Homo sapiens: one gene and its partners. The protein of the gene in region 2 interacts with the protein of the main gene of each other region in a biochemical or structural test. Each region holds a gene or a part of one and is shown on either strand. Other genes may lie near its edges. The genes, in order: LATS1, MAP4K4, SLMAP and STRN4.

What was found.
Region 1: of the proteins of MAP4K4 (region 2) and LATS1, one has a biochemical effect on the other in vitro, tested with the Homo sapiens proteins (one study listed by BioGRID).
Region 3: the proteins of MAP4K4 (region 2) and SLMAP form a complex in vitro, tested with the Homo sapiens proteins (one study listed by BioGRID).
Region 4: the proteins of MAP4K4 (region 2) and STRN4 form a complex in vitro, tested with the Homo sapiens proteins (one study listed by BioGRID).

Annotation. Positions count from the first base shown.
Region 1 is NC_000006.12:149,659,094-149,666,133, reverse strand, and holds part of LATS1 (serine/threonine-protein kinase LATS1), read left to right. Parts: intron 1-1,491; coding exon of another isoform or gene 1,492-1,614; exon of another isoform or gene 1,615-2,818; coding exon of another isoform or gene 2,819-2,917; exon of another isoform or gene 2,918-2,942; intron 2,943-3,895; coding exon 3,896-4,405; 3' UTR 4,406-7,040. UniProt on the Homo sapiens protein: Negative regulator of YAP1 in the Hippo signaling pathway that plays a pivotal role in organ size control and tumor suppression by restricting proliferation and promoting apoptosis.
Region 2 is NC_000002.12:101,889,707-101,895,190, reverse strand, and holds the end of MAP4K4 (mitogen-activated protein kinase kinase kinase kinase 4), read right to left. Parts: intron 4,026-5,484; coding exon 3,942-4,025; 3' UTR 501-3,941; downstream 1-500.
Region 3 is NC_000003.12:57,759,296-57,766,335, reverse strand, and holds part of SLMAP (sarcolemmal membrane-associated protein), read right to left. Parts: intron 1-7,040. UniProt on the Homo sapiens protein: Associates with the striatin-interacting phosphatase and kinase (STRIPAK) core complex, forming the extended (SIKE1:SLMAP)STRIPAK complex.
Region 4 is NC_000019.10:46,722,445-46,729,484, forward strand, and holds part of STRN4 (striatin-4), read right to left. Parts: intron 6,334-7,040; coding exon 6,174-6,333; intron 5,564-6,173; coding exon 5,450-5,563; intron 5,248-5,449; coding exon of another isoform or gene 5,103-5,247; coding exon 5,008-5,102; intron 3,205-5,007; coding exon 3,029-3,204; intron 2,936-3,028; coding exon 2,888-2,935; intron 2,485-2,887; coding exon 2,363-2,484; intron 841-2,362; coding exon 670-840; intron 507-669; coding exon 366-506; intron 1-365. UniProt on the Homo sapiens protein: Calmodulin-binding scaffolding protein which is the center of the striatin-interacting phosphatase and kinase (STRIPAK) complexes.

The DNA of each region.
Region 1 (7,040 bases), on a different chromosome or scaffold from region 2:
GGAGTCTCTCTCTGTCACCCAGGCTGGAGTGAGTGCAGTGGTGCGATCTCGGCTCACTACACCACCCAGGTTCAAGCGACTGTCCTGCCTCAGCCTCCCAGGTAGCTAGGACTACAGGCGTGTGCTACCATGCCCAGCTAATTTTTGTATTTTTAGTAGAGACGGGGTTTCACTATGTTGGCCAGGCTGGTCTCAAACTCCTGACCTCAGGTGATCTGCCTACCTTGGCCTCCCAAAGTGCTGGGATTACAGCGTGAGCCACCGTGCCCAGCCAAGATTCTGGATCTTATGGAGAATTTTGACCTTGTTTTGACAAGCATTAAACCCGGTTGGGTTCAGGCCACAAGTTCCAACCAGTCTTTTTTGATTTCAATGTCAGTTTCAAAGGCTTTTCCTTTCTAGGCAGATAGATCTCTTTGTAGGCTGTGGTCTTTTCCTTAGTTCAGTTCTCAAAGTCTTTGGTATGCTCCTTAGGATTAGATCCACATAGTTACAGTTTGGAGGGGGAGCCCAGCAGTTCATAAGCAACTTAATGGGGTCACTTGCCCAATCTCCTCCCTCTCTGTGATGTCCCCAGTACTTTCCTGTTCCCTGGGGCTCCCTATTTAGTTCTCTGACCAGAAAGTGAGGCTTTACTTATCCAACTCTGCCAATATCTCATAACTGCATCTGAATCCAGGACAAGGTGGCAAAAGGACACAGAGAGAAAACGAGCAACAGAGATTCAACCCATCTTCTTGGGACCCCATGCTTTATTAATTTATATATTTATGAGATATTGTCTCACTCTGTCACCCAGGCTGGAGTGCAGTGGCACAATCTTGGCTCACTGCAACCTCTGCCACCTGGGTTCAAGTGATTCTCCTGCCTCAGCCTCCCGGAGTAGCTGGGATTACAGGTATGCACCACCACACCCCACTAATTTTTGTATTTTAATAGAGACGGGGCTTCACCATTTTGGCCAAGCTGGTCTCGAACTCCTGACCTCAAGTGATCCACCCGCCTCGGCCTCCCAAAGTGCTGGGATTACAGGCGTGATGAGCCACTGCACCCAGCCCCATGCTTTGTTATTTTATTTACAATTGGAGAGGAAGGTTTGGCTGTCAGTTTTAGGTGCATACTGGCTCTTATTGCCACCTCCGTTGCTACCAGGAAACTCCTTTTCTACTCCCTGAGCCTGAACTAGAGGGAATTCTCCTAGAGCTCTCTGTGCTCAGCTTCTTCCAAGTTTTGGGCTACCTTGAGTCCAGCCTGCAGACTACTAGAGACAAAAAAATGGAGCTGGGTGTGCTGGCAGAGGCCTGTAGTCCCAGTTACTCGGGAGGCTGAGGTGGGAGGATTGCTTGAGGCTAGGAGTTCAAGACCAGCGTGGACAACATAGTGAGAATTAATTTTTTAAAAAAATAATTTTTTTTAAATGGTCACCAGGTTTAATGGTACTTCAAATTTACATCTTCTCCCCTAATCTACCTGTTATTATTTACTTTTCAGGATCTTGAAGTAGCTGCTTCCTGCATCCTGACCAGGTTTTATAGCTGCCTTCTGTGGGAGGGAGACAGGAGAGTATATGTAGTACATCTTCCTCAAAACTGGGACCTCTCTGGTTGCTTTTAGGGTTTTCTTCTCTTTAACTTTGGTTTTCTTCAGTTTGACCATGGTGTGCCTATGTGTAGTTTTCTTTGTATTTTTCTTGGTTGAGATTCACTCAGTTTCTTGAAATGTACATTAATGACTTTCATCGATTTGGGGAAATTCTCTGTCATTATCCCTTCAAAGATTTATTTTGCTTTCTTACCTTTTGAGACTCTAATGATTATACATGTGCTATTCCTTTGATACTGTCCTCCATTTCTCTTATGCTTTATTCTTTCTTTTATTCTACATGTTTTCTCTCTGTGCTTCAGTTTATATAATTTTATTCATCCATCTTTGAATTATCTGAATCTTTTGCTGTGCTCTTTTTTTTTTTTTTGCCTTAAACTGAAAAATCCTAAATATACCTTAAAATAAAAAATATTAAACTTGGCCAGGCACAGTGACTCACGCCTGTAATTATAGCACTTTAGGAGGCCAAGGTGGACAGATCACTTGAGGTCAGGAGTTTGAAACCAGCCAGGCCAACATGGTGAAACCCCGTCTCTACTAAAAATACAAAAAAATTAGCTGTGCGAGGTGGCGGGCACCTGTAATCCCAGCTACTCAGGAGGCTGAGGCAGGAGAATCGCTTGAAACCAGGAGGCAGAGGTTGCAATGAGCCGAGATCACGCCACTGCACTCCATCCTGGGCGACAGAGCAAGACTGTTTCAAAAAAAAAAAAAAATTGTTCATCTCATTGTGTATATTTTTTATTTCTCCTGTTTGAAATAAGTGATGAAACTGGAAGCATAAATAACTATTATTAACTGTATCATTTTTTTTTTCCAAAAAGGGTTTTTAAAATATTCTATTATTAGTTGAAGCCTCTCCATTTTCTAATCTGGGATAAGACTTTAAAAGGAACAAATAATAGACGAGGGAGTATATTTTTCTTCCCTCTATAGTAGCTGACTAGCTCCTCTACAAATAAGGAAGATTATACTGTTCATTTATTCAGCTTTTTAAAAAATATTTATTGACTGCCTACCATGCAACAAGTTGAAGATTTTTTTTCCCTCTTTTGAGACAGGGTCTTGCTCTGTCGCCCAGGCTGGAGTGCAGTGGCACAATCACGGCTCACTCTAGCCTCGACCTCCCTGGGCTCAGGTCATCCTCCCACCTCAAGTAGCTGGGACCACAGGTGTACACCACCAACCTGGCTAACTTTTGTATTTTTTGTAGATATGGGGTTTCACCATGTTGCCCAGGCTGGTCTTGAACTTCTGGGCTCAAGCAATTCATCTACCTCGGCCTCCCAAAGTGCTAGGATTACAGGTGTGAGCCACAGTGCCTGCCCAAGTTAAAGGTATCTAAACTTGGTTAAATGACAATGCATTCTACCACTTAACAGAGTTTGCCCCAAATCCATTTAATATCGTACTTGGAGTTGTATACCAATTCCCCTGCCTCCAAGAGTTCAGCGGGAGAGACTAGGTAGTCTTAGGTAGTCTGGCTTCACTTGGCATTCCTTTCTTCATCATTTCATTTTATTCATAACCAGAGATTTTTCTTTTTTTTTTTTTTTTTTTTTGGAGACAGTGTCTCGCTCTGTCACACAGGCTGGAGTGCAGTGGTGCAGTCATGGCTCACTGCAGCCTCAAACTCCTGGGCTCCAGGAATCCTTCTGCTTCAACCTCCTGAGTAGCTAGGACTACAGATGCATGCCACCATACCTGGCTAATTTTTAAAGTTTTTTTGTAGAGAGGGGGTCTCGCTTTGTTGCCCAGGTTTGTCTTGAACCTTCCCGGCTTCAAGCAGTCCTCCCACCTCCGCCTCCCAGGGTGCTGGGATTACAGGCAAAAGCCACCACGCTTGGCACCAGAAAAAGTTTTATCAAACATGTATTAAGTATGTGCCAGGCAATTTACTGAGCACTAGGAGATACAAAGACCACTAAAACATAATCCCTAGCCTTAATGGATATATTTCAGTAGGACATAAACATAAATAGGTACCACAAGCTATTAGAAATATGATAGAAATAAATATATGGTACAGGGGAGGCAGAGTAGAAGTAGTCACTTCTACCATAGGCCAAAAGGTTTACTAGGGGAGATTAAAACTGACAGTGAGTCTTATAATGTGAGTAGAAGTTGCTTGGAGAGGATGGGATAGGAGAAAAAATTATTTTCCAGCAAAATATCATGTAATTTATTTAAAATACAAAAATAGCCCAGTGAGACTTTTGGTATAAAACTTGAAGGAAATCTTTATTTTTCTAATTTATCTCTTCCCCCTAATTTTAAAAAATCTTTAAAGGTTATCAACTGGCAAACATCTCTTCACATTCCACCACAAGCTAAACTCAGTCCTGAAGCTTCTGATCTTATTATTAAACTTTGCCGAGGACCCGAAGATCGCTTAGGCAAGAATGGTGCTGATGAAATAAAAGCTCATCCATTTTTTAAAACAATTGACTTCTCCAGTGACCTGAGACAGCAGTCTGCTTCATACATTCCTAAAATCACACACCCAACAGATACATCAAATTTTGATCCTGTTGATCCTGATAAATTATGGAGTGATGATAACGAGGAAGAAAATGTAAATGACACTCTCAATGGATGGTATAAAAATGGAAAGCATCCTGAACATGCATTCTATGAATTTACCTTCCGAAGGTTTTTTGATGACAATGGCTACCCATATAATTATCCGAAGCCTATTGAATATGAATACATTAATTCACAAGGCTCAGAGCAGCAGTCGGATGAAGATGATCAAAACACAGGCTCAGAGATTAAAAATCGCGATCTAGTATATGTTTAACACACTAGTAAATAAATGTAATGAGGATTTGTAAAAGGGCCTGAAATGCGAGGTGTTTTGAGGTTCTGAGAGTAAAATTATGCAAATATGACAGAGCTATATATGTGTGCTCTGTGTACAATATTTTATTTTCCTAAATTATGGGAAATCCTTTTAAAATGTTAATTTATTCCAGCCGTTTAAATCAGTATTTAGAAAAAAATTGTTATAAGGAAAGTAAATTATGAACTGAATATTATAGTCAGTTCTTGGTACTTAAAGTACTTAAAATAAGTAGTGCTTTGTTTAAAAGGAGAAACCTGGTATCTATTTGTATATATGCTAAATAATTTTAAAATACAAGAGTTTTTGAAATTTTTTTGAAAGACAGTTTTAGTTTTATCTTGCTTTAACCAAATATGAAACATACCCCCTATTTTACAGAGCTCTTTTTTCCCCTCATAACCTTGTTTTTGGTAGAAAATAAGCTAGAGAAATTAAGCCATCGTGTTGGTGAGTGTTCCTAGGCTAATGATAATCTGTATAATTCACATCCTGAAACTAAGGAATACAGGGTTGAAAAAATATTAATATGTTTGTCAGAAGGAAAAATAATGCATTTATCTTCCCCCCCACCCCCCGCCCCATGGAATATTTAATCTATTTAATCTTCTTGCATTTATTTCTCAAGAATTACTGGCTTTAAAAGAAGCCAAAGCACTACTAGCTTTTTTTCCATATTGGTATTTTTGATGCTGCTTCCAATTTTAAAAGGGAACAAAGCTGCCATAAATCGAAATGTTCAATACTAAAAGCTAAAATATTTCTCACCATCCTAAGCAGATAATTATTTTAATTTTCATATACTTTTCCTGTATAGTAACTATTTTGATTATATCATCAATGTTACCTGTTTCCTCTTTCAGAACAGTGCTGCATATACAGATTGTTATTGGCAAAGGAAAATCTGGCTATCTGGCAATATTTTACCTAAGCGCAGATTAATTGGTGAAAAAATTAACTCTTAAGATGGCCATTAATAATTAGGAAAGTTTACAGAGTGGTCTTAGTAGAAAATTCAAGTCCTCCTAATTTATTTAAGGTTCAATAATGCGTTCAACATGCCTGTTATGTATAACGCTTAGGTTCTAAGGAAGATTAAGGTTTCATACCAAAATACATGTAGCTTATCTTTTAGGAAGGGGAAAAAGGCTCCATTTTGACCATAGTAAAATTTGTGTTGTGTTTTATTTCCTTTTCTTAAGCTCCACTGATAAGGGATTGTTTTTATCAAAAGTTACTATTTGTAGATTGGAGGCATAATTTTAGTGATTTTCATACTTTTAGCTTTCTTCGCATAAAAGCTAATTGAAACCGTATATGTAGTAAAATTAAAGGCAGAGCTGTTGCAGTTGAATTGGAGAGTTAGGGCAAAGAACACTTATTAGCCCACACTTCCCACCTTTCTACAGGTGGTCCTTTCAGAGCTCAGCCTGAAAACCCACTACTGTGTTATCGTGCGTCTTTTGGGGTTAGTGGTTCTTTTGAGAATCTGAAGGAAGCTGTGGACTCTTCCTAGAAAAAAAAACCACACATACACATACAATGTTGCATGCAGTTTCAAGGGATTTTGGACATATTGAAACCTATCACAGGCTGTAGGTTATGGACCTCTGTGCCATGAGAAAATTGATACATTAAACTAAGAACTTTGTTTTTAACTTACCAATCACTACTCAGCACATCTTATATAAGCTGATAATTTGTGATGGAAAAGGTCTGTAGCATGTGATATAAGGTGACCTTATGAATGCCTCTCTTGCTGGTACATTAAGTTGTTTTAATATATCATTTGGAGGGGACTGAAATGTTAGGCTCATTACAAGCTTGATACAGAAATATTTCTGAAGGATTTCTAATCAGAATTGTAAAACAATGTGCTATCATGAAATCGCAGTCTTCACCTCATGGTTCATGGAACATTTGGTTAGTCCCATAAAATCCTATGCAAAACAAAGTAGTTCAAGAATTTTTAGGTGGGTAGTCACATTTATAAGGTATTCCTCTTACTCTTTGGGCTTTTTCAGTCTGATTTATTTAAATTTTCATTTAGTTGTTTTACTTTTGGACTAAGGTGCAATACAGTAGAAGATAACTTTGTTACATTTATGTTGTAGGAAAACTAAGGTGCTGTCTCCTCCCCCTTCCCTTCCCACAAAATCTGTATTCCCCCTATTGCTGAAATGTAACAGACACTACAAATTTTGTATTCTTTTTTTGTTTTTTGTTTTGAGACAGGGTCTCACTCTGTCACCCAGGCTGGAGGGCAGTGGCGCTTCACAGCTCACTGCATCCTCAACCTTGGGGGCTCACGCAGTCCTCCCGCCTCAGCCTCCCAAGTAGCTGGGCATGCGCCACCAAGCCCAGCTAATTTTTGTATCTTTAGTAGAGATGGGGTTTCGCCATGTTGCCCAGGTTGGTGTGGAATTCCTGGGCTCCAGTTATATGCCCACCTCAGCCTCCCAAAGTGCTGGGATTACAGACGTGACCCACCGCGCCTGGCGCAAATATGTATTCTTTTAAAATTTCCTCTGATACTATAAGCTTTTTGCATTTATCTGAAGCAGTATACATGCCTTTGGTATCAGCAATTTTA
Region 2 (5,484 bases):
CCCAGATTTGCCCGACGGCGATCATGCCTACCAGGCCTATGGGGGGGTTGATGGGGAACCCCAGCGCTGAAGACACAATGACCTTACATTGAAGGGGCTCCAATTATTAAACCCAAGTTAGTATTTATGCACCAAACTGAGAAAGAGCTACTTTAATTGACCTATTACAGACATCATGCTGTTGTATTTTTTGATCCAAATTCAAAACTGCAAAAATGTGACATTTCTTTAAGGACCAGCTTTACTCCATACTGTCTTCAGGAACCTGGTGATGGAGGTTCATCTCCCACTTCATCTCTGAGGTCTTTAGACAAACATTTGCTACTTTTGTAATCTATACCTGGCCTTGGGCAAGCCCCTGTCATCTGAAATAGCAAAATACAGGAGCCTGCTCTGGTACGGGAAGCTCAGGGTAGGCAGGTATGCATAAAATATGGATCCTCACAGGAAGGAAACATTCTGAAGGGTCAGAACATATTCGAAACTCATGCCACATAAAATAGGTGTCATTTTTACTTTATTTAAGGAAAAAAGGGTGGGGGGACAACAGTAATTTTCATAATACACAGTAGACAAGTTAGCACTGCAAAAAAAAGGGCTGTGTACTTGCCACCAGTCTGCTTTGCAGCTTTTATAATTAGTAAATTTAATGCAGTTTGTCATTTGTATTACTATTTAGCAAATTAATAATTGGCAAAATTAGGGTAAGTGTGCTACAACTAAGACGAAAACCTAAATAACCCATAAAAAGTCACTTAAAATAAACCATAAATATGTGGTGCGCATTAGTGTAACAAAACCATTTTTGTAAACATTTTCTCCAACGTAACATGTGCATGAGAAAAGAGTAAAAAACACTGCACTCAATACAGAAAGGGTTACTCTGATTTTAATACAGAAAGGTTATTACTTGTGAAAGCTCTGACTAAACCTAGAGACATTTTTGTTTTGTTTGGAAGAGCACTCCTCTAACAGTTCAATGTTCCTTATGTAATGGTGTCATTGCAATACTGTTTTCTTGTGTAATTTTGCCATATTGGCACTTCTGTGGAGAAGTTACTACCCTGTAAAAGGGGGGAAAATAATTCCTTTCCTAAAAGAATCTAAACATTTCGACGACTCCCAATCTTTAACGGAGAAACTTCACTGGGTCCCTGCATCAAGCTATAGCAACTCAATCTGGTTGACAAGGGGGTGAGGCTAAGACGGGAAGGAAAAAAGCCAAGTAAAGCACAGACCAGGAAGCCCCCGCCGAGAAGGACAAAGGGTGTTCCAATTTCAGTAACTTAAGCCCAACAATGGATTCAATTCAGTTCACCACAAACACCACCAGAGTGCCCACCGGGTGCCTGGAGCTGCACAAGCAAGCCAAGCACAACTCGGTGTGAGCTCAGACCCCTTTACCACCTATGGGAAAGCCAGCAAGTTCTAAGCACTTGGTAATTCCAATGAAACACCATTTGCATTTTTTTTTGTGTAACATTTGACTTACAGACATGGAGCTTCAAGTCTTTGGATAATGTTAAGACCATTATGCCACATCCTTTGTTCTCTGCCTTCTCCCACTTAGCATCAGACATTGAGCATTTCTTCAAAGACATCTGCCCACCTTTTACTGTTCTCCACCTGTGCCTTTCCTTCTTCTCTTGATATGTACACGAGTGTGTTCACTGTGGCATGTTTCATCTTATGAAAAGCCTAAACATGGATATAAATTACAAGCAGGAATTTAATTCTAACTAAAGTCCTGTGGCGATGGAATCCAGCCTACCTCAAATCCCTTTAAAGGTAGGATTAATTTTTCAACCTTCTCTAGGTTAACTACAAACCAGTAGGCGGCTTTGGCCTTCAGCACTGCTCCAAACTCATACAAATGAAACATCCATTTCCATCTTCTTTTACTTCCCCAAAAAGTAAGCTTCTCAGCTTGTCTTTACAGGTATACACAAAACCACCAGCTGCTGTGTCTGCATTCATGAGTGGATGTACTTGTCTTACCAGATGTTTGTAGCTCAAAGGAGGGCCTTTTTCAAAAAGATGGAACCAGGAACAGGAAACTGACAAGAGGTCAGAGTGGGTGCCAAGTGGGATGGGAAGCAAACAGGTACAAATGGCTGCTGTGTTTAGGTGGGTGGGAGCAGAGGGAAAATCCCCCATTTTCACAATATACAGGAAAATTAACCACAAAGGAAAAAGATCAAGCCTAAAAAACAGCAAGTTTCTTTTGATGACTGAGGTTAAAGCAGCCATAATGCAGTTATTTCCACTCAGAACTCGACAAGAGGAAAGTAAGATGGCAGGACTGTGACATGGAGTCCTGATCCTTTCCTGAGACGGTAATATCCTTACGGGAGCTTGAGTGATGACCATGAAGCCATGAAACAAATTCTTTCTCAAGACATTTATTACAAATGTCATGAATATATTCATAAAGTAAAATTGGTTTAAAAAAACAGAGAACAAGAGAGCAAGTGAGAAAACGAGAAAAGCCAGGACTTCGATATTACACCTAAAACACAGAAGATGCCCACTTTATGAATAAGCAGAATTAACTACATTCTTAAAATAGTTTTAGTGCATTGCATTTTTAGAAAAGGGAAACTCCCCCACCCCCAAGAAAAGGTTCCTGCAACACTGAACAGTTTGTGTGACTATTCTAATGTAACCACCTGTCTGCTACCAACCCCTCTACATCGAGAACAATGAGATCTTGTGTCATGGGCTGCAGTTGCCCCATCAACCTCTAATGGTGAATCTGGTAAAAACAAAGCATTCTGGTTTCTAAACTTGTAAGTAAACTGCATCAGCCTTAAGGCTATTTCCCATCTTCATGGACAGTTCTTGTGCCTGCTGATTTGTGACAATAAAAGTCAAACTTCAATCTGGTCGTTTTGGTATTAAGATTAAATTAAACATTAATGGTTTCTTCCAAAAACATATAAACTAAATCACCTCTCAATGCATTAAGAACAATGAGGTAGGCAAAAAAAAAATAAACATGTGGTTTGAATTTTTTTCTTTCTTCTGCAAGTGCAGACTGTGGTAAAACTTTTGTTGCACGTCTAGGTTTAAACAAAAATTAAACCTTTAACTGAGGCAGTGCTAATACTGTCACACGACAAAGTTCTGGCCATTATACAAAATGCACACGTTTTCTTTTTCTTTTTTTTTTTCCTTTTTTTTTTTTTTTTTTTTTTTTTTTTAGAACCATCTGCACATGATTTAGGCAACCTGGTACACAGAAAAATGACTGAGTTCTTGGCCAGGACCCCCACCCCAAATCCAAAGAAACAAAATGGGACCCCTTAACCCACCCCACCCCATCTCCCAAGCCCCACCCACAAAAAAGTTATCCTAGTAACTGTGTCTTTCACATTTTATAAATATTAACTTCTTAAACCTGCATCTTCTTCTTTGTCCACATATCGTCACATTACAAAAAAGAAATGTCAATTAAATACACTGTTAATGTTACTATATTAAATCTGCTCTCTGCTTCAGCACTCCGCTCCTTTTACCACCACTTCTCACCTCCTTGTGCCCACTGCCAATAAAACCAACGGCATGTTCATCGTCGCCACTGTCAGACACCCACAAGACAGAGTCATTCAGAGACAAGGAATTCTGGAGCTGGAGGAAAGGTGTTTGCTTTCCAGTATGATGCTCAATCCCAAACACTTATAGCACCTGATGGTAGAATCTGAACAGCACCAGCTGCATTGCAGCCTTGATTTATTTTGGAGTAAGAAAAAAAAAAAGAATGGGGATAAACTGGTATATAAGAGGAACAGGAAGGAGGGGAGAGAACCCAACACATGAGGTCTGCACACACAGCTGTCCTGGTTGCCCTCGGTGCAGCTCCGAGCTCCAGTTACAAGGAATTCCAAGTTCTCAGGATCTTGAAGACTCTGGAGGCCAGTAATCCCTGGATCACACTGCTTCTACCAGCTCAGAAGAGAAGTCCTGCCTAAGGTCATGAAATAAACCTGACTGCTGCCACCAGACCGAACAGAGGCAAAGAACACCTGCAAAAGCAAGAAAAGAGAGGGAATGGTTACCATGGTCATGAAGCACTTCCAGCCAGGGAATCTAAGCCACCATCATCCTCAACACTGTCAAGTACGAGAAGCTTAGACTCCCAAAGAGCCTTTTCAAAAGAAACTCTGAGGCCAGGTGCAGTGGCTCACACCTGTAATCCCAGCACTTTGGGAGGCCAGGAGTTCCAGACCAGTCTGGCCAACATGACAAAACCCATCTCTACTAAAAATACCATGTGGTGGCACACACCTGTAATCCCAGCTACTCAGGAGGCTGAGGCATGAGAATCACTTGAACCCGGGAGGTGGAGGCTGCAGTGAGCCAAGGTCACACCACTGCATTCCAGCCTGGGCAACAGAGCAAGACTCTGTCTCAAAAAATAAATAAATAAATAAAAAGGCTGGGCATGGTGGCTCATGCCTGTAATCCCAGCACTTTGGGAGGCCGACGTAGGCGGACCATGAGGTCAGGAGTTCAAGACCAGCCTGGCCAAGATAGTGAAACCGCATCTCTACTAAAAACACAAAAAATTAGCTGGGCATGGTGGTGGGCTCCTGTAATCCCAGCTACTCAGGAGGCTGAGGAAGAGAATTGCTTGCACCCAGGAGGTTCAGGTTGCAGTGAGCCGAGATCACGCCACTGCACTCCATCCTGGGCGACAGAGCAAGACTCCGTCACCAAAACAAACAAACAAACAAAAACAACCCACAAAAACCTCTGGGGCAATTATCAATTTATAATTTGTAAGGAGTGACCATCTGCAGCCAATTTTTATTACAACTCAGGCTTGTTACTACTAACTCCTTACACGTTGGCATATTGTGAGACAACAAAGGAAAAAAATGGATGTTTCTGAAGTTATTTCTTTCCACTTCTACTGTTAACACCTTCTAATAAATAAATGTCTTTAAAAAACACAATGAGCATCACGGAAGACTCCTTAACAACCTAATTTCTTTTTAAAAATCAACAAAAAATGTATTAATTACTTCATATAACCCATAAATAGAATTTTTGTGCCATTTATTAATAAATCTTAAAGGACATGACATGCATGATAAAAATATTTAAATGCCTGAAATTCAAAGAATGCTATAGTTGCAGCTATGGTAAACATACTTAGGAAAGTATAAGCCAACAAGCTGACAAAATCCTGGATTAGGTCTGAGCTGTAGAGATTTTCAAGGTCACAGATTTGGGAGATAATCTGTAGGCAAAACTCCACTTGAAACTGAGTTGTAGGGTTGCAGAAGACAGTGGGTAGAGGTGAAGTGACTTTGTGTTTGGGATGTATCGGGCAAGCAGGACCAGCTGCCAAGGACATATGTGTAGCTTCTTCTTTCTTGCATTAAATGACTAAATGTTTAAATCTGAGAACTGGGCTGACTGCTAGTCTGTCAATGTGACGCAAAAGGTGGAAACGTTCTTCAGGGCCAAGTTTCAAAG
Region 3 (7,040 bases), on a different chromosome or scaffold from region 2:
TTAAGAAAACCAGACAGGTAGACTGGGTGTGGTGGCTCACGCCTGTAATCCCAGCACTTTGGGAGGCTGAGGCAGGCGGATCACGAGGTCAGGAAATCGAGACCATCCTGGCTAACACGGTGAAACCCTGTCTCTACTAAAAATACAAAAAAAAAAAAAAAAAAAAAAAATTAGCCGGGTGTGGTGGTAGGCGCCTGTAGTCCCAGCTACTCAGGAGGCTGAGACAGGAGAATGGCGTGAACCCGGGAGGCGGAGCTTACAATGAGCCGAGATCGCGCCACTGTATTCCAGCCTGGGCAACAGAGCAAGACTCCGTCTCAAAAAAAAAAAAAAAAGAAAGAAAATCAGACAGAAGCCTAAAAGGGCAAAGAGTGAATTTAACCTAAGGAGTAATGTCAAAGAACTAAGTGGGAAAAAAAATGCTTTAAGTATATACACTGTCGATATTTTTAACAATTTGAAATCACAGATAAAATATTTTATCAATTTCCCACTATTATGAAAAATAATATAGAGGGAAATGAACATGTGCTTTAAAGATATAATCTGGCTTCCTATACATGTTCACATTATGTGTCTTAAATACAACTTGTCAAGTAAAAGACTTTCTCACAAACACCAGCACCCCTTAATGATCTTTATACTTCTGTCAACAAAAAACTTAAGTATCTGTTAAAACAAACATACAAACAAATAAAAAGTAAAAGAATGTATGACCTGCCATTCTCCCAAAAGCTGAGGCTAGGATCTTTGTGGTCATGTTTAGATGTGTGGAGGAAAAAAGAAGAAACAATCTTGGTTGTCAAATTCAGCAGGCTCTTCACAATGTCTTCCTTACAATGTCCTTGGAACATGCCGTATCATCCCTGCTTCTTCCTCCCACCCAAAACTCCTTTCCCTGACTGACCCTAACTACAATCTATCCCTTAACCCCATATTTTTTTTTAAGATGGGTCTCACTATGTCACCCAGGCTAGAGCAATCATAGTGCACTATAGCCTTGAACTCCTGGCCTAAGTGATCCTCCTGTTTCATCCTCCCAAATAGGTGGGGCTACAGACCTGATGCACCCCTGGCAAATACAAGTTTTTGAACTTTTTGTTTTTTAGAGACAAATTATTGCTATGATGCAAAGGCTGCAGTGCAGTGGATTTTCACAGGTGCAATTTTGGCATACTACAGCCTCAAACTCCTGGCCTCAAGCAATCTTCCAGACTCAGCCTCCCAAGTAGCTGATATTACAGGCATTTGCCACTGTTCCTGGCCATTCTTCCTCTTTTTAAAAGTCCTAAGGTCTAGTTTAAATTGGATTTCATCCATGAAACTGTTTCATCCATTAAACTTTCCCTAAAGTCTTCAGTTCACACAGGACCTTGCGCTTTGCCGAAGTCCTAATGTGCAAGTTAATTTAATACTCTTATCTTTTTTCATTTTCTGGCATTTAATCATTTTCATTCCTACTGTTAACCTGGTCTATGCCCTCACAAAATCACATCATATCTAAAGTGTTATAAAGCCTTTAGAATAGCACAGTGGTTATGAGCTTGAGTTTAAATCTCAATTCTACCATTTAATAGCTAGGTGAACTTGACCAAGATCTCTCTGTGCCTCAATTTCCTCACAGGTCAATGCAGAAAAAACAAGCACCTCAAAGAGTTACTTGAAGATTAAATAAGTTAACAAGTAAAGCATTTAGAATAGGGCCCAGTATATAGTTAGTACAAAAGTGTTATTTAAGCTGTTACCCATTTTTCCTTGCTCCAGGCAACTCTACATACTGCTATTGTATCACTATTGTATCACTCTTTCTTTCTTTTCTTTTCTTTTTTTTTTTGAGATGCAGTCTCCCTCTGTTGCCCATGTTGGAGTGCAAAGATGGGATCTCTGCTCACTGCAACCTCCGCTTCCTGGGTTCAAGTGATTATCCTGCCTCAGCCTCACAAGTAGCTGGGATTTCAGGTTCATGCCACCACACTTGGTTAATTTTTGTATTTTTCGTAGAGGTGGGGTTTCACCATGTTGGCCAGGCTGGTCTCAAACTCCTGACCTCAGGTGATCCACCCATCTCGGCCTCCCAAAGTGCTGGGATTACAGGTGTGAGCCACCGCACCCGGCCCACTCTTTCTTAAACAGGGGTTTGGTATGTCAGTGCTCTGCTCAGAACTCTCGTAGGCCTTCCATAACCCAAGGGTCCACATCCTAAGCTTGGTAAGCAAGGCACTTCACAACCTGGCACCACACTATCTAGTCAGCTTCATTTATTCAACAACTACTTTATACAAGATAGTAGGAAAACGTTCCTGTCTTCCAGAGTGTGAAAATTAATTACAAAGACAAGGCACAAACAAGAACATCACACAGAATAGATGTGCACCCTTGGCTACTCTTCAAAGAACTCTCTAATCCAACAAAGTCAGTTTCCTCAGCATTTGGAAAATGCAAAGCTCATTCAAAATTATCTGCTTTTTATTCCATCCTCATCCCCACAAAAAAAATAAAAATAACCAAAAAAACACCTTTTCTTATCTATCCACCCCTAATTTTAAAGTCAAATGTCATTATTCTTTTGCCATTGAAACTTACATAATATCACCTATCTCAACTATTTTCAAAGTGCACTGTCACCCTCTCTATCCAATGTAAAAGTTCCTAGAAAGAAGAAATAACAAATCCTCATCAGTTTGTCATTTTCTCCCCCTTTACCACTATGCCCTTCACTAAAACAAATCATGATAGAACAGGTGCTCAAAAAGATGCACTAGGCCGGGCGCGGTGGCTCACACCTGTAATCCTAACTCTTTAGGAGGCCGGGGCGGGTGGATTGCCTAAGCTCAGGAGTTCGAGACCAGCTTGTGCAACATGGTGAAACCCCGTTTCTACTAAAATAAAAAACAGTAGCTGGGCGTGGTAGTGTGTGCCTATAATCCCAGCTACTCAGGAAGCTGAGACAAGAGAATTGCTTGAACCCAGGAGGCAGAGGTTGCAGTGAGCCGAGATCACACCATTGCACTCCAGCCTGAGTGACAGAGCGAGACTCCATCTCAAAAAAAAAAAAAAAGATGCACTAAGTTTAAATTAAACGTGAGACTAGAAGTAGACAACTACTACCACTAGTAAGTAAACTTCAGTGAAACTGGAAATAGACTACTATGTCAACCACTAGCATGTCACCGGTACCCCAAAGCCTCAAATCAAATAGGGCCATCCAAATCACAAGAGTTCACTCACTATCCTTTCTATGTAACCACTATATGGGTAGATCTGCTTGCTCAGTGGTGCCTTGAATCAACAGAGGAATTAATAACCATTCTAGGCTGGGCACCGTGGCTCACACTTGTAATCCTAGCACTTTGGGAGGCCGAGGCAGGCAGATCACCTGAGGTCAGGAGTTCATGACCAGCGTGGCCAAATGGTGAAACCCTGTCTCTACTAAAAATACAAAAAATTAGCCAGGCATCTGGGCATGGTGGCTCATGCCTGTAATCCCAGCTACTTGGGAAGCTGAGGCAGAAGAATCACTTGAACCCAGGAGGGAGAGGTTGCAGTGAGCCGAGATTGCGCCACTGCACTCCAGCCTGGGAGACAGGGCAAGACTCCGGCTCAAAAAAAAAAAAAAAAAAAAAAACCATTCTACTATCTGCCATCTAATTTGAAGAGCTTGACTTCCGAAAAGGATGAAGGATAATACACAGGGCCAGCATCCAACAAGGCAATATCCAACTGCTACATTACTGAGAAGATGATTTGGTAAAGATTATGAAACTCTGCTTTGTGCCAAACCTGTCACCCTTCAACATGCAGATTTAAGTATTATACAATAAGATATTCCATGAGCTTAGCATTAAAAAGTGTCACTTAGATTTCCACCTGCCTACATTTTGCAGATATTCTAAAATGAACATGTATCATTTGAATAATCATAAAGTTTCAAGTGTTTATTATTTCTTCCAACTTTTTTTTTTTTTTTGAGACAGAGTCTCACATTGTCACCCAGGCTGGAGTGCAGTGGCGCGATCTCAGCTCACTGCAACCTCCGCCTCCCGGGTTCAAGCAATTCTCCTGCCTCAGCCTTCCCGAGTAGCTGGGATTGCAGGCACATGCCACCATGCCCAGCTAATTTTTTGTATTTTTCGTAGAGACAGGGTTTCACCGTGTTAGCCAGGATGATCTCGATCTCCTAACCTCGTGATCCGTCTGCCTCAGCCTCCCCAAGTGCTGGATTACAGGCATGAGCCACCAAGCCTGGCCTATTTCTTCCAACTTTTTTTTTTTTTTTTTTTTTGAGACGGAGTCTCGCTCTGTCGCCCAGGCCGGACTGCGGACTGCAGTGGCGCAATCTCGGCTCACTGCAAGCTCCGCTTCCCGGGTTCACGCCATTCTCCTGCCTCAGCCTCCCGAGTAGCTGGGACTACAGGCGCCCGCCACCGCGCCCGGCTAATTTTTTGTATTTTTAGTAGAGACGGGGTTTCACCTTGTTAGCCAGGATGGTCTCGATCTCCTGACCTCATGATCCACCCGCCTCGGCCTCCCAAAGTGCTGGGATTACAGGCGTGAGCCACCGCGCCCGGCCTTCTTCCAACTTTTAATGAGCCTCCCATAATGGACAATGCAGAATGCAACAGTCACCACAAAGTGAAAGTCACCCAAAGCACATATTACCCCAATTGTCGACCGCCCAGGTAAACTGCCAATTTAGACAAAGTTATCAACTACATCAGTTTCAATTTTAAAAATTTCTTCTGGCCAAGCACAGTGGCTCATGCCTGTAATCCTAGCACTTTGGGAGGCCGAGGCAAGTGGATCACCTGAGGTCAGGAGTTTGAGACCAGCCTGGCCAACATGGTGAAACCCTGTCTCCACTAAAAATACAAAAATTAGCCAGGCATGGTGATGAATGCCTGTAATCTCAGCTACTTGAGAAGCTGAGGTAGGAGAATCTCTTGAATCCAGAAGGTATAGGTTGCAGTGAGCTGAGATCGCACCACTGCACTCCAGCCTGGGTGACAGAGCCAGACTCCGTCTCAAAAAAACAAAAAACAAAAACAAAAACAAAATTTATTCTATATATGCCATCACATTAAAGAAAATAATTTCTCATCACCTTCCTAAGACTCCATAGCACTATAGCAAATTGCACAGTGTTGTCTAAATAGTTCCCTCTTCCCCACTAAACACCCTCTCTGCTGAGTATTGGGTGCTTAGTAAGAGCCAGGGACAGGGTGCTAAGTGATTTATATAATTACCTCAATTCTCAAAACAATAATAGGTACCATTATCATCCCCAGATGTTTAAAAAAAAAAAAAAACCTGGCCGGGCGCGGTGGCTCATGCCTGTAATCCCAGCACTTTGGGAGGCTGAGGTGGGTGGATCACCTGAGGTTGGGAGTTCAAGACCAGCCTGACCAACATGGAGAAACCCTGTCTCTACTAAAAACTCAAAATTAGCCACGCGTGGTGGCGCATGCCTGTAGTCCCAGCTACTCGGGAAGCTGAGGCAGGAGAATCACTTGAACCCAGGAGGGAGAGGATGTGGTGAGCCAAGATCGCGCCATTGCACTCCAGCCTGGGCAACAAGAACGAAACTCCTTCTCTGAAGGGATTCTTTTTTTTTTTTTAAGAGACAGGGTCTTGCTTTGATACCCAGGCTGGAGTGCAGTGGCATAATCACAGCACTGCAACCTCAAACTCCTGGGCTCAAGCAACCCTCGTGCCTCAGCATCCCGAGTAGGTGGGACTACAGACACTGCAAATTTCATACGAGAACTATTTGGTCGCACTGTGGGTTTTCTTTGGAACTGTATCCCTCACAGTGTCTGGCACATAATAGATGCTCAATTAAAACCTACTATCTGTCCAAACCAAAACTTTAAATAGTTAATTCCTAAAACAATTCAATGACATGGTAAGATCTGACAGAGCATCCGCTATAACTAGATTAAGTGGTATAATAATCAATAATTACATCTATATCTAAAGTAGTGGTCTCATAGCCTGCGTGTTATTTTAGCTAATAAAGCAGGAGGAAAAAAGTGAAAATGGTAGAAATAAGCCATATCTACCATTCAAAGATAAGTTTTTCTGAAGAACTAATTTCATGGCCGGGTGTGGTGGCTTATGCCTGTAATTCCAGCACTTTGGGAGGCCGAGGAGGGTGGATCACTTGAGGTCAGGCGTTCAAGACCACCCTGGCCAACATGGTGAAACCCAGTATCTACGAAGAATATAAAAATTAGCTGGGCATGGTGGCATGCGCCTGTGATCCCAGCTACTCAGGAGGCTAAGACACAAGAATCGCTTGAACCCAGGAGGCAGACGTTGCAGTGAGCTGAGGTTGCGCCACTGCACTCTAGCCTGGCCACAGAGCGAGACTCCATCTCAAAGAAAAAAAACAAATATTAACATGTCATCTCAATTCATGAAACAGTCACTACTGACCTATTCTTAGTTATCTCAAAATAACCTATTGTGAGAGTTTTAGTACAGCCATGGAAAGCACTGGGCATGAAATCAGTATTTTTCAAATAAGTAAAACAAAAAATGGGAGTCCCCTTCGAGTGTTTCATCAAAGAAAGTGCATTCGCAGAGTATGTACTGTGAGCCAACCTGTTGTCTGATTAGTTTAGACCTGTTGCCCAAGAACATAAAATGGTGAAAATGTAAAAGCTGGTTGAGTTAAGGCACTACTTAGTAGTAAACTGATGTTTGAATTCAACTGCTGGAAAAATGAGTTCTATGAATATTCATTTTAAAGAATTATGAGGGCCAGGTGCAGTGGCTCACGCCTGTAATCCCAGCACTTTGGGAGGTTGAGGCAGGTGGATCAACTGAGGTCAGGAGTTCAAGACCGCCTGGCCAACATGGTGAAACCCTGTCTCTACTAAAAATACAAAATTAACCAGGCATGGTGGCGTGTGCCTGTAATACCAGCTACTTTGGAGGCTGAGGCAGGAGAATCACTTGAACCCGGGAGGCAGAGGTTGCAGTGATCTGAGATAGCGCCACTGCACTCCAGCCTGGGTGACAGGAGCAAAAATCTGTCT
Region 4 (7,040 bases), on a different chromosome or scaffold from region 2:
GGATGTCGAGGGGGGCTGGGCGAGGGCACTCCGGTCCCCGACCGCAGCGCTGGTTCTGCACAAGCAGCCCCTGGGCCCTGTTTTGGGGCGGGGGAAGAGGAATAACAAACATGAACACATTCCGCCACTCTACCAAGAGGGCCCGACGGGGCGGCCCTGACGCGCTCTCCCCACTCAGCCCCGCCAGTGCCCTGGCTGTGAGGGCCGGGGGCCCTCCACTGGGACCCAACTTCCTTCCTGCTCAGGGCCTGAGGGTGCAGGGGAGTCATCTGAGCTGACTGACAAGGGGTCGCCAAAGCCCCAGGAGGAAGTGGGGCCCAGAAGACACTGAGACCAATTCCATGAGCTGATGTCAGCCCCCTTACCGCTGCTGCCCCGGGACTCCAGCGTGAGGAGGGCACTGCCAACCTCCATGTCATACAAGACGGTGTCGCCAGAGCGGAAGGAGGCCACGATGTGGGCAGGCTCGGTGCTGGTGAAGGCCACTGAGGTGGGGACCCCGTGCTCTGAGGGCACAGGGAAGAGAAGGCTGCTGAATGGACCCTCAGACCCAGCCCTGCCCCAGGGTGGGGGACAGTGGGTGGGAGGCCTGGGGCCTCAGCAGGAACCACTCTGATAGCCTCCAGATCCCGCACAGCTCCAGGGTGAGGCACCGGGGCCCCCACTCACCGCTGGCTGTGGGGAAGGTGCAGAGGCAGGCCGGGCTGCTGCTGCTGGGGTCCCAGATGCGGACGGTGCCATCAGCAGAACAGGAGGCCAGGCGCTGGGAGGTGGGACTGAAGGCCAGGCCCCACACGGCGTCCCCGTGGCCCTCCAGGACGTGGCTCAGCACGCTTGGGTCTGCACCCACCGCAGGGAGGAAATGGGCTGTGTCAGGGCTGCCAGCTCCTCCCTGGACAGCCCAGAGCCCCAGCTCTGCCAAGCCCCAGGCAGCTGGGCTCCAATCACCCACGCACCCACTTCACACCTGGTGCCCCTCGGAACTGTCCACTGCCAGGACAGCCCGGCAGCTGCTCACACTGCCCACTAGCTCTCCAAGGAAGGTTCTAGGGCTCCAGAAGGCAGGGATTTCCCTCTATTCACAGCTGTCTCCCCAAGCAGGGCCCAGAAACTGGGAGCTCAATACAGAATTTTTCGGGCTCCATTAAGGAAGAAGGAACAGCATGGTTCTGTGGCCCCAGGAGCGGCACGCAGCCTGTGCTGGACAAGGGTTGGTCCCAACCCTGGCCCGAGCAGTCTTTTCAGCCCATGGCCAAGTGCATGGGCTTTGCCTGGTCTCTCCAAAGCCCCCTGGTCATTCAGAGGTCCAATCACTGCTTCCCTGGTTGCTGGAGTCCACACCAGCAGCTCTGGCCTGCTGACACCGAAAGTGTGGTGGCTAATGTAGCTGGGACCGATCCTGACCTTGTGCAGGTGAGCCTGTTCTCTAAAGTCTGTCCTCCCCTTGAGAGGAGACAAAGACCTCTGAACTCTGCCCAGACAAGGTGGAGCACAGGGCCAGGTGCATGATCAAGGAGGCAGAGCCGGGCGCAGTGGCTCATGCCTGCAATCCCAGCACTTTGGGAGGCCAAGGTGGGTGGATCACCTGAGGTCCGGAGTTCAAGACCAGCCTGGTCAACGTGGTGCAACCCTGTCTCTACCAAAAATACAAAAAATAGCTGGATATGGTGGTGCGTGCCTGTAATCCCAGCTACTCGGGAGGCTGAGGCACGAGAATCACTTGAACCCAGGAGGTAGAGGTTGCAGTAAGCCAAGATCACGCCACTGCATTCCAGCCTGGGTGACAGAGTGAGACTCTTTGTCTCAAAAAAAAAAAAAAAAAAAAAAAAAAGGCAGAGAACAGGGGGACAGATGTTGAACAGAAGTGACAGTCTGGTCACTTCCCTACTTAGGTCTTAGATGCTCCAAAGAGAAAGCCCCAACGCGCTCCAGCCTGGCCCAGCTAACTCCACCTTCTCTGCTTTCTCTGGACATGCCCTCCCCTCAACCACGCAGAGACCCTGGCGGATCCCCACACACAGAGTACACGGCATGGCAGAGCAGAGGCTGCCAGGGCCAGCCACGCCTGTGCATGGGCTGCTCCCAGCCTGGGCTGCCTCAGCACTGCCTTCTGGACGCCGGCTCACAGAGATTCTCAGGCAGCTTCACCACCTCCTCCCACAGCCATCATTCCCATCCCGGCTGGCTCGTCCCTTGGCCACGCGCTGCATCGCGCTGCTCACAACAGAGCAGACAGGGGAGCCGTCACACGCACTCCTGAGGCCTGCAGTGTTGGCAAGAGGTGGACGCGACGTGTGTGTGCGTGGAGGGGACGGCCAGGCCCCAGTGGATGTGAGGGGAAGGCGGGAGGCGTTGTCCTCACCGTAGCCATCATAGGGATCCATGCTGAGGTCTGGAATCTTCCAACTATGGATGCAGGCATCTGCCCCGCCACTGTAGCAGTATTCACTGTTGCTGCCCATAGCCACAGCCAACACTGGGCCCCTGGAAGGGACAAATATGTGGAAAGGGGGATGAGACAAGCTCAGGGCCTCCCCTGGCCACAGGACCTAAGTTCCCTACTAGCATTCTTCAAGGATGGCCAAAAGGAATTCAGTGACTGGGGCTCTGGCCATGCTACCTGGACAAGCTGCCTGTCCCCTGCCCTCCCCCACCCCACCTCCATCTCCTCCCCTGAAGGGCTGTGCTGAGTACCAGCTGCCAGGGCATGTGAAAGTCAGCATGGAGCCCCAAGAACCAGGGCTGTGTATATCATGAAGGGGGCGGGGACTCAGAGCCCCCTGCTGTCCTGCCTCCTGCCGTGGGCCTCCCGCGATGGCAGTGAGCAGGTCAGGAGTCAGGCTGCATTTAGGACGAGTTTCTAGCAGGCTCAGGGGCACCTCCCTACCTGTGAGCCCGGAAAGCATGTATAGGTTCCACATCTAGCGCCGCATTCCTGTGGGATGACAGAGGAGCCTGATGTCACTGAGACCCTGTCACCCCCGTCCCCAGATGCCCCTGCCCCCGGCTCTGAGCTTGCTGCCCTCACTTCTTGGCCGTGACCGCCTTCTGCAGGTTCCAGAGCTTGAGCGTGCCGTCCTCGGAGGCGGTGAGCAGAGCCGACTGGCTGTGGTGGAAGGCCAGGGAACGAATGCCGTCGTAGTGCGAGCGCAGGGTGAACTTGGGGTTCCACGTCTTCTTAAAAGCATCTTTGCTGTCAGACAGCTGGGGTTGGGGGGAGCTGCCTCAGTGTCTTCGCATCCATCCCAGCAGTCATGCAGACACCGACACCCAGGGCTTGAGGGCCCCTGTCTTCCACCCACATGACCCTGGCAGGAATGCCCTCAGAGCCTGGGCTCCAGCCGGGAACTCTCCCCTTCCTCTGCTGGGCAGAGTCTCCATGCTCGCCCAACAAGTCCCCACACTGCGCTGGGTTCTGGAGAGACAAAGGTGAGCCTGACCCCTTGGGGTCTTGCAGTTGAGAGGAAGGGGAATGGGGGACACAACTGGACCATCCCACAAGTGTGCAGGATCATCAGCCATGAGCAGGGCAATGAATTAAAGATGCACAGAGAGACATCAGGCAGCCTGCCCTCCTCCCTGGGGGCCACTGAGGCTTTCCTGAGGAAGCACGAGCCAGCAGGACTTCACAAGATAAGGAGAGGGCCCTGGAGAGGGAAAGGGCCCGTGCAGAGGCCCTGAGGCAGCAAGGGCGAGCCCAGGCCTGAGAGGTCAGTGGTACAGGCTGCAGGAGGCAAGGAGAGTGGCAGGGGATGAGACAGGTGCTGGGTGGTGAGCCCCGGAGGAATGCGCATTTCATCCTAAGAAAAAGCCTCAGAGAAACAAGGAGCCGGGGAAGTGTTTAGAGCAGGGGAACGACATGGCTTGTTCCTGCCACCCCTGAGAGGCTCAGATTAGGGGCAGGTAAAAGTAGCCACAGACGGGGCACAGTGGCTCACGCCTGTAATCCCAGAACTTTGGGAGGCCAAGGCAGAACGATCATTTGACCCCAGGAGTTCGAGACCAGCCTGGGTAACATAGGGAGATCCCCTCAAGGAGCAAAAAAAAAAAAAAAAGGTAGCCTCAGAGAAAGAGGTTGAGAGGCCAGGAAGTCCCAGGGGAGATGAGGGCATGGAGACCAGACACGTGACCATGAAGGGGAGGCAGTGCACAAGTGGGAGAGCTGTGGGGGCCTCTGTCCACCACGCTGCATGCGCCCTGGTGCCGCTCACCCAGCAGGGGACCCGGAGAGGGCCAGGTTCCGGAGAGATGACGAGCAGAGTACCAGGCAAGCCTCAGCACCATGCCCCAAGATGGGCTCCCAGCTGACGTCCCTGCCTTAGCTGTCCCTTCTGCCACAGTTCTTTAGGGTCAGAGGATCTGCTACTGTGTGGTTCACTCACCCCCTCCCCTAGCGGGGCTCAGAACACTGCACTTCCCCAAGATGAAATGACATCTTGGGGCGTGCAGAGGGACCCCATGGCACACTCCACTTCTCAGGCCTCTGCTCTGACCCCCCTTCCTGAATCTCACAGCAGTCCCCACCCAGCCTTACTAGGGTCACCAACACTGGAAATCCCATTCTGTCACAGTAAAATGTGCACATACACCCACACCAAAAGCTCCCAGCTGGCCAAAGGCTCCCAGCTGGCCAAAGGCTCCCAGATGGCCAGAGGCCCGTCCACTGAGGCCCGGAACATTTCATTTCAGCCCAGCTGCCCATTCACACTAGATTGGCCTGACTTGGCAGAGCAGGGGGTGGCTACAGGTCATCTTCCTGCATTCCAAATCACCAGGGTGGGAGGGGCAGAGTGGAGGAGCCGTGGAACTGTGATTAAAACACAGGCTCCAGAGTCTTCCAGGCCCTGCGCCTTGGCGACCGCAGTCAAGTCCCTCCACTGTCTACATCTGCACCCCTCTGTGAAACAGGATGAGCAGGGCACGGGCGGCACCCAGTCAGAGCTTGCAGGGGCTGGCCCTGGGCGCAATGCCAATGGGGACAGTGTGGGGGGCACCCGGAGAACTTACATCGCAGCTGAGGTCGTTGTCGTTGGTGACGGTGAGATCTGCCAAGTCCCCCAGGCTCACCTCCCCGCCCCCGATAGTGTCCATGATGAAGACGTCTGAGGAGAAGCCAAAGGAACCTGGTAGGGGGAGGGGAGGGAGGGGCAGAGAGGGCCAGGGAGAGAGAGAATGACAGAGAGAGGCAGAGAAAGAGATAAAGAGCAAGAGAGAGAGACGGGGAGAGGACAAGATGAAGAATCACAGCTGGAAAGAGACAGAGAGACAGACAGGGCAGGACAGACAAAAAGAGAGGGAGACAGACAGACAGACGAACTTTTGGGGCAGGGAGGCTGCAGACTGGAGGCTGGGCCTCGACCCTGAAGACACAGAAGCCCTGGGCTCAGCTCTGCAGCCTCCCTCTGCCATGGGCCCGCAGGACTGGGACCAGGTGGGGGGTGCCTCTTACCTTCATGTGGCCGGGGCTGGGGTGTGCCAGGAGGCGGGCCAGTCACTTTTGGGGGCAGCCCATCCACATCCCGCAGGTCAGCCAGAATGCCTTGGAGTTTGACCCGACGGCTTTCTGCAGGGTCGAGGCATAGGGCCGGAGTCACCCAGCAGTTCCAACCCAGTCTGGCATAGGTGACGCCTTCCCCACACTGAGGGCCCCCTGCCACTCTGTGGGGCTGTGAAGCTCTGGCCCTGGGGGAGGGGGGGAATGGGCAGAGGAGAGGAGGTTGATTGGGCCCCTCCGTGGGGCAGTGGGCAGGTCACTGCCTTGCCTAGGCCTCAGGCCCCAGCCACCCATCCCACGTATCCTGAGAGCCCTCCTAGCTAGGAGTCACAGGACAGGGAGGAAGATGCGGCCCTCCCACCTGCCTCTCCCCGACTGGGTCCTCATCCTGTTCCCTCCTTGAGGCCAGCCAGAGCTGGACGCCCGCCCTGGAGGGCTGGCGGCCCCACTTCAGGAAGAGCCAGGACTGCCTGCGTCTCCATGGGGATTTTCCAGGGAAGGGGTGAGGGGCCGGCGGCCATGACCTGGGCCTCCTGCTCTCCTTGGCTACCCTCCTCTCAGGAAACATATCCGTCCGGTAGAGAGACCCTGTACAGGAAGCAGCTGCGGGCAGCTGAGCCTGCTCCCACCCCCTCGGTGGGGAAGGCAAGCGGGGGCTGGCCAGAAAACGTCAGCTCACCCAGCTCATGGGGGCTCCCATCCACAGTGCACCGCCGAGGGTCTGGAGCCCCTTCCCCATCCTCTCCTGAGCCCAGGAAATCAAACTCATTGATAGCATCCTCAGAGTCGTCTTCCTCATCCTCGTCTTCCATTTCGGGCACCAGAGCCTTGGATGGGAGCTGGCACATGGAGAAAGCCAGACAAGTCAGGGGGCCTCTTGTCCAGAGACTAAGCCACCTCCGTGCCTAGGAACAGGTAAGCCGGGGCTCTGGGCCCGTTTCTGTTCATGGGGCTGCCTCAGCCGCCAGCCAGCTGCCCTGGAGCGCCCCCTGCTGGGCCTTGGACAGCTGCTACCACTAGGGCCGGTCGGCCTGACCCCACCCTCACGCAGTCCTTCCCCTAGCCAGGGCTCAGCCTGCTCCAGTCCCCCAGCAAGGTGCCTCGGATGAAGAAAAGTCAGATAATGCAACAATCTGCCTGCAGGGAGGGCAGATATGCACTGGTGTCCGTGTGTGAATATACGGAGGTGCAAACAAGTGAGGATGAATGGACCACAGCATTGCAGCGATAAACACAGCACCAGCAGCCGTGCTGGCACAAGAGCAAATTCCACTCACTGAATGACCACTGACTACCCCTCGCAGACACGACTTCACTTAACCCCCAACCCTGCGAACAGCTACCGTGAACACTGTCATTATCATTCCCACATTACAGGCCAGGAGACAGGCTGAGCAGCAGGAACCCACTTGCCCTAGGTCACCAAGGCCAAGCTCTGCCCACTGTGAACTCCTCCAGGGCGTGGCTGACCCCTTCCACATGTCAGCCCCCCAGGCTGAGTTTGGCGACACCTCTCGGGCACCAGTGAGGGGCCAGCCTCTGACCT